Homo sapiens: one gene and its partner. The protein of the gene in region 2 purifies or fractionates together with the protein of the main gene of each other region. This does not show direct contact. Each region holds a gene or a part of one and is shown on either strand. Other genes may lie near its edges. The genes, in order: TBC1D15 and LRTM2.

Region 1 (3,817 bases), about 70 Mb from region 2:
TTACTTTTACATGGCTTCAGTGCAGATAGATTTTGGTGAATAAAAATGTAAACTTTGGATTCGCAAATGAAAGACTATTTTCCAGACTTCCCAAGCTACCAATAAAGAAATTTCTACATGATTTTAATAAATACACAAAAGTTACCGAAGTTGAATGATAACGTTTAAGTAAAAAGGCTTAGTATAAGTTCGTGTCCCTTCATTGGTTCAAGAACCTCTTAAGTCTGAAAATTTTTCAAGTCTTGAAAATTGTAAAACAAGGATAATTGAGGGTTTTATAAGAGGAAGTAAAAAAGAAGTTTGACATGTTCAGGTGAAAAAGTAAAACTAACACTTTTTCTTATTTTTAAGTGAGGGATCTGACTCCTTAATTTTCTAGTTTTTCTTTTAATCAAGGGCTCTATTACTGTCACCATTGAGAAATTGTAATAATATCAAGAGACATGTAGGTAAGTGGTCACTTTAGGTACAAAATATTGATTGGGTTAAGCCCAGTTGCTGGCATTGGTTGGGTGTAGAGAGTAACAAAAAAAGAAAGAAGGACGTAGATATGACTATTTAAAAGAGGCTCTTAATTTTGTAACTCCTGTTATGTGAATCTAAAGGTCTGATTGTTAAAGCAGTTGAACCCAAAGTTCTTGTTTTATGTGGCTTACTCATGGTAGTTTGGCATTGCTAACCACTCTGGGCTTGCAACTTTCTTGTTAATTTTTGCAACATTATTCTCGCTTGATTTTTTTCTTTACTTCTCTGACTGGTCTTTCTTAAACCTGTCTTTGAGTGTATACTCTTACATTTGATGTTCCTCTGGATTATCTCTTCACCCCTCTTCTTTCTCATGATGCTCTTGCACATTATTTTTAAAAATATTACCCACTCTTGATAGTGTATCTGCACTGAGACACGTACTGGAAGCTATATATTGTTTGACATCTCAATCTAAAACAACTCATCTTTCTTACTTATGACTAGAGTTCCTCCTCTTCATTTATATTCTTTTCTTGGTGAACATCAGTGTCTACCAATTTCTAAATGCAAAGGAGAAAGATACAATTTTAAGCGAAATGGTGGTGATATGCACAACTTGCAGAAGGTTACATAAAACTTGGGTTTTCAGAGATGATTTTTTCTTTTCTTTTTAGGATATGTTCAAGGAATGAGTGATTTACTTTCCCCTCTTTTATATGTGATGGAAAATGAAGTGGATGCCTTTTGGTGCTTTGCCTCTTACATGGACCAAATGGTAAGAACAGAGATTCCTTCCATTAAACTGATTTTTAAAATTTTAGTTGTATAATTTTATAGTATAAGGTTGATTTTTATATTTAGCCAACTATGATGGAACTTAAAAAAATTACCTCATGCCTTTTGTTACTTTTTCTTTTTAGTAGCCTTTCAAGGGCTTAGAAATACTGGTGGTATTTTTAATACAGGAAATAGTTTGTGCCTGTAGTATAGGAATAATCAGGATTTAATATCAGTAAATGCTTATTTTCTACTAAAGAGCCATGTGTCATTACAGAATATTGATAAAATAGATGAATTCAATTTTGTGGAATAGTTGAACTTTAATATCATCTGTTTCAGAGATAAAGCTTAGTCATGCCAAGTAATATCCTTACCTTTTGTGAAGATTTTGAATTTTGTCATTATAGTAACTGATTTTTCTCCAGATGTGTTTGAACTATTTGTAACTCTGACACTTTCTTAGGAATTCATTGTTATTTTCCCAGAAGTATGTGATTATTAGAATTGAACTGTCTATATATACATGTTAGTACAAAGAACATTTTATCTATTATCATTGTTAAATCTTTGAGACAGAGTTCTAGGATAATAGTGCAGAGAATATTGACAGGAAAATAAAAGAAAAGTCTCTTCAAGCAATCTCAGAAAAATAAAAGCAGAAGGGGTGAGACTAGATAAAGGCAGATGAAGTCCAAAGACCTGACTACATAGAGGTTGCTGTGTTTTTTCAAAATAACACTAACATACTGGATGCTGGGCCTTTATGTTGGATATTGAAATGGCTGGCTTGCTTGCAAGGGATAAACATTTTGAATCTAACCATCTGAAATATTTTCCTGTAATACAGGGTTTAACTCAGAGTTTCTGGGATACAAATGTGAAATTTGGAAGTGGTACCCTTCTCCTTTTTTCTTTACTTCTATTCTTTCCCTTTTGCTTGCCTATTTTTCTTTCTCCTTCAAATTTTCCCTGCTTGTGGCTATTTCCCCAAATCTCTTGTCCATAGATTCAACTTGTTTTTGCTTCTTTCAGTTTTTTTCTAAATGTATACTTGGTAAGATTTGATAGATTTAAAATGTTCTTTTACATTAAATTCATGAATATTCAAATTGGTTTTTTGCCATAAATTAATTTTTTTTGACTATTTGGAAGGATTATCAATGCAGTAATTTGGTAATGTCATAGTTTGTCTTCCTTCCTTTTTTGATTGATTTGTCTACCTTCTTAGTTCCATTTACTCCCAAGTGCTCTAGAAACCTGAGGCATTTGTTATAAAGGTCTGTACAGCTGATACTAATTACATAAAAACTGTTGTCTGCCTTCCTTGTGTTTTTGTTGTTTATCCTCTTTTCACCAGAGCTAGTATGTTCCTTGATAAAAGGGATTATATCTTGTTTCACTGGTAGCATACCAGAATTTTCCTAATGCCTGACATGAGGTTGTTCAACGGGTTTTTGTAGAATAAACATGTGAATCTTTCCCCAGTGATTAGTTTAAATTGCTATAGTAGATATTCTAAAAAAAAAAAAAAAAACACAACTAAGATGAACATACTGCATTTAGTATCATGCAATAAGTTTTCAATAAAACTAATCCAATATTGGCATGTAAATATATATTGACATATAATGCCACATACACACATGCATACAGACGTGTGTATATAGGTCTCATATGTAAAGACTACCTTCTGAACATGTGTAATAAACACTTTACAGTCCGTCATTTTTTGTGTATGAAGGTTCAGTTTCTTTGTTCTGTCATTTTCACAGTAAATGCTCTCTGTGTTTGCCTTTTCCATTAAGGATGTTCTGGGGATTTTTCTAGTCTTTATTCTAAAAAAGATATCTTATGATTATGTTGTCTGCTAACATCTTTTCTTTCATAATATTTGAATGAGAGGGAAATATATGGCAATCAAAATAACCTGTATGATTGTTTTTCACTGCATTGCCCTTGTTTGATGTCCCTAAATCTGTGCTGCTGTTTCTTGATTCTGTGTTTCTGTTTTATAGCTTTACTTCATGTAAGTTTGTACTACCTTTGTGGTGGCTGAACCTAACGTCTGTAAATTTACTTTTGTTGATGTTTACTTGCATCTAATGTAGGTCTAGGCATAGACTTTGTCTATTATCATGGAAATACAAAGTACAAGTGATCTGATGAACTTTGTTATACCCATCATCCATTTTGCCATATAGTTTTAATTCCTTTCTCCTCTCCATCTCCCCCTCCCCTGCCCCATACAGACACATTTATTTACAGACACATTTGAAGCCCTTTGTATATCCATTGTTGATCCCACTCTCCCTTCTCCAGGAGTAACCACTTTTTCGAATATGGTGTCTGTCATTATGGACATGTTTCTTTTTTACAGCAGAGTGGGTAGCAAATGTCTATGCCATGTTGGTATTCCCAGATCAGCTCTAGTCTTTGACTGTGTCACAGCAAAAATGATCCTGTTAATCAGAGTTGATTCTGCCCCTTCTCTATAGATCTCTCTGGTAAATGTGGAGGAACTATATCCTAAAGCCTTGAGTTAGTCTATTAATAAACTGGTTTTTAAAAT
Region 2 (3,817 bases):
TGAAGCTTCTCGGCAGCTCCATCCACCTCTGGGCCTGTCTTTTTCACTCTGATATTGTCTCCTGGGCTCCCAGAATTCCATAGGCCCATGGGGGCAGGGAGAGGGAGGCTGCAACCAGGAATTACCCAGGGACAAATCTGGCAACCAAGGAAGGTCAGAGGCTGGGAGCCGCCTGGAGCAGTGGGCTGACGCAGGGAGCCCGTGGAGGGCGAAGGAGAGGGGTGCGGGCATCCTCCCTCCCTCCCTGCCCATCCCCGCCCTTGCCAGCTGCAGCAGGTAAACACATGCCAGTCCCCTGTCCCCCTCTCTGATGGGCTGGCAGCCTGGGCCTCCCATCTGGAAGGAAGTGGAGACCCCAGCACACAGCCTGTGTCCCAGTTGGGAGACACTGGGGGGGGCAGACCCTAGAAAGGGTAAGTGCCCCCTTGTCCCCCGCGAAGGAAGCCTGCTCCTGCGCCCTGGCTGCCTCAGCGCCCCTACTCTGCGTTCTCACCTCTCCTTGTGTCCCTGTCTCTTCCTAGCAGCTGCCGCAGCATGAACCCCTGAGCTGATGAGTCTTATTATAGCCCGGCTGGCGGAAGACAGAGTGCTGCTATTCACCTCTGCGTGGGCGTCGGTGGTGCAGGGGGAAGCAGCAGGCCATCCAGCGGCTCACACCCTACGCGGCTGCAGCTGCCAAGGGCCTGGCCCCTGCCTCCCTCGGGCCATGGTGAGCTGTGGCGGGGCTAGAGGAACCGGGACCCAGGTGAGGGGAGCCTCCAGGGACAGGTGACAGTTGTGGCCTGTGACCTCACTCTGCTCACCTCGGAGAGATGACCTCAGTTTCTCCACCCATAACTCAAGGAATGCCCAGATGGGAGACCAGGTTGCCATGAAAACATCTGAGTGATCAACATACTCGGGAGGCAACAAGAAGGCAGATGAGGCTGGGTAGGCCCATGGGTGCACCCCCAGCTTTGCGGCACTGTGCCCGACCCTCGGGCTCCTGGAAAGCCGAAGCCTGCCCCGCCCCCATCCCAGGGGCTTGAAGGCTTCCTGGCTCCTCTTCTTCCCCCACCCAGGGAATCATAACTGAGAGGAACAGGAGAGGGCATGAGGAGTGTAAAGAGACACCCGGGCCCTCTCCCTAACCCCTGGGCTGGAACGGGGCTCCCGCGCCTGCCTGTGCTCAGTGCTCCTCCCTCCCTCAGGACTGACAGGCGGCGCACCCAGGGGCTCCTCTCTCCCCAGAGCGACAGGGCCCGGAGAGCCGTGGGCCTCACCATGCTGGCGCCGGGCAGCAGCCCTGGGCAGAGGGGCAGGCTCGCCCTGCAGTGGAGGCAAGTCTCCTGTGAGTACACCCCTGGCCTCGGAGGGGGGTGCGGGTTGGGTGGGGGTGCCGAGGTGACTGTAGGTAGCGCCATATGGGACCTTAGCCACACTCAGGCTGCAGGGAGGCCTACGCCAGATCTTCCTGGGGTACCCGAGGCTATGTTCTGGGAAGCCAGGGTCACGCCCACGGTGACAGCATCCCTGCCAGTCAGAGTCACCGCTGAGTGCTGAGTGGTTAGACCTGGAGCTGGAGGCCACGACAGTTGTTCTACCTCCCCCAGGTAAGTCTCTGTGAGCTTGCTGGGGTCCCCAACAGGAGAAGAGCTCTGCTGGAATGCAGGCCTGCTGAGTCTTAAACAGCCTCACTGGTGCCTGAGCTTGTCGGCCTGTGTCACAGACTGCGGCGAGCCCTTTTGCTCCCGTGGGGAACTGCCCCCTTGGCTGGCCTCGGCCAGGAGCTGGGTCAGCTTGGAGATGTCTCTTATGCTCCTTATGCCTCCGCTTTCCCAACTCTCGGTAGAGGACCTAGTGGGCTCGTGGGATGCGGCGCTGGAAGAGACTTTGGGGAGTGGGTCCAACCCCTCCTGCATATAGGCAGACTGAGCCGTCCATTTACCAAAAAGGGGAGGAAGCGTGAATGAAGGCAACACTTGGCAGCTGTCAGGGTGAAAGGAGCCCTGAGAATTCTCTTTATATGTGGCAAAGGGACCAGGTCAGCAAGGGCTGGTCTGCCCAAGGCTACACGGTGGCAGGGAGGAAACGGTCCCGCGGGACGGCATTCCGCCTGACTTCCCGCTCTGATCCAGCACCCAACACGGGCAGCCTGAATTATTCACCATGTGAGAGAGGCTGGCCCCTGAGTGACTCAGATCTCCTTTCAGCCTCATTCTAGAATCACTCAACACCTCGCAATACGGGCTTATGTTTTCTTGTCACTGGAGCTTTTATGCCACCTTGATCTCCAGGGAGGTGGGGGGCGCAGGGAGTCGCTCTTCCGCAGCGGCTCTCTTAGCCTGCTGTCAGGCCCTTCTCTGGGAGGGGCGAGCGGCTTCTGGTGATGCAGATCCTTTTGAGAGGGAGCTGAATGCGTTGGATTTTATTTCCTGGGGAAAGTCAAGTCTGAAGAATGCTGATTTTCAAATGGCTTGGGGTGGTGGTATGGGGCTGGCTGATCTGGTAGCAGACGGGCTCAGAGGGGTGAGAGGGTGAGCGGAGACATGAGGTAACCCAAGATGGCCAGAAAAAGGGTCTCCGGTGGCTTCCATGGCTGTACCTGTGCTCACTTCTCGCCAAGAACAGTGAGGCTTGCTGTTAGGCTGCAGGGAGGCCTGGGCCAGATCTAGCCACGTGTCAGCTCTCAGCTGTCATCGATCCTCCAGGCAGGGAAGGGGAGAGTCTCATCCTGTTCCTTCAAGCTCCACCCTTTGGGACAGCAGACACCCAGACCCCTACTGGACAAGACTCAAGGCTGTTCAGACCCAGCTCACAGCCCATCGGCCCACCCCGACCTGGGACAGCCAGGTCCCAGGTCCCATGTCAGGGTGGGCCGATGGGCTGTGAGCTGGGTCTGAACTTCTCCATCAGTTCTCTGGCTGGGGTCTTTTCTCTAGGCTGGGTGGAACTGACCTCGGCTGGGCTGACCTGGTGGGGCTGAACTATTTTGAATTCTTCCCAGTTCTCTTTCACGATGAGCAGGCTTCTCTGCTACTCAGGAGGACACTTAGGGGTTTTTGAGGCCACTATTGGAAAGGGCTGCTGCATAATGGAAGGCACTGCTCTGATGTGATTGTTCCCTGAGGGTTACTTCTCCCAGCCCTACAGACAGGACCCCATGCTCGCTACGCAGAAGGGTCTTGGGCAAAAGATGGGACCAGGAAACGAATTCTATTCATCGGGCCATTGTGCAGGAATGCTGCCCTGTAGCCCCTAGGAACAGAAGCCCAGGCTGAGAGCCTAGATGGCTTTAGGGTGGGGGTTAAAGTGGAATGTGTCCTGGGCCCCATGACTTGTCAATGTTGAAGTGGGTTTGTACATCTTAGCCTGTCACTCCCACAGTGGGACCCTAGGTGCACAGCCTGGGCTCTAAATCCTCATGCCAAACTGCTGGCGTCATCATGGGTGTGGGATTGATGGAAACATAACAGCACTTGGGACGCCGTGAAGGACAGGGCTAGGAGTGCTGTTTTGTGCTCTCGCCTTTCCATACACAGCTCCAGAGTTGGGGTGGGCCACAGAGGGGAGGGAGCCAGCAGCCTGGCCATTTTCCCTGGGAAACAAACTCTGTCCCAGCAGTGACACTGGGAGAGGGCATGGGAGCAGGTTTCTCTGACAACCTTATCTCCTTTCTTGTGTCAACATCCATGGTGTCAGTGGGACCCAAACTCCCCGGGAGATGACTGTGGGAGGCCCTGTGAGCTTCCTATCACTGCACCAGCATGGCTTGTCTCTGGGCTCTGGCTGAGTCTGCAGGGTCATTCTCCACTCAAGTGATTCCTCTGCCAGATGT

What was found.
Region 1: the proteins of LRTM2 (region 2) and TBC1D15 purify together in Homo sapiens (affinity purification with mass spectrometry; one large-scale study listed by BioGRID and IntAct). This does not show direct contact.

The regions. Positions count from the first base shown.
Region 1 is NC_000012.12:71,912,684-71,916,500, forward strand, and holds part of TBC1D15 (TBC1 domain family member 15), read left to right. Parts: intron 1-396; exon of another isoform or gene 397-449; intron 450-1,142; coding exon 1,143-1,243; intron 1,244-3,817. UniProt on the Homo sapiens protein: Acts as a GTPase activating protein for RAB7A. Does not act on RAB4, RAB5 or RAB6.
Region 2 is NC_000012.12:1,826,886-1,830,702, forward strand, and holds part of LRTM2 (leucine-rich repeat and transmembrane domain-containing protein 2 precursor), read left to right. Parts: intron 1-521; exon of another isoform or gene 522-524; 5' UTR 525-709; exon of another isoform or gene 710-1,092; coding exon of another isoform or gene 1,093-1,263; coding exon 1,264-1,330; intron 1,331-3,817.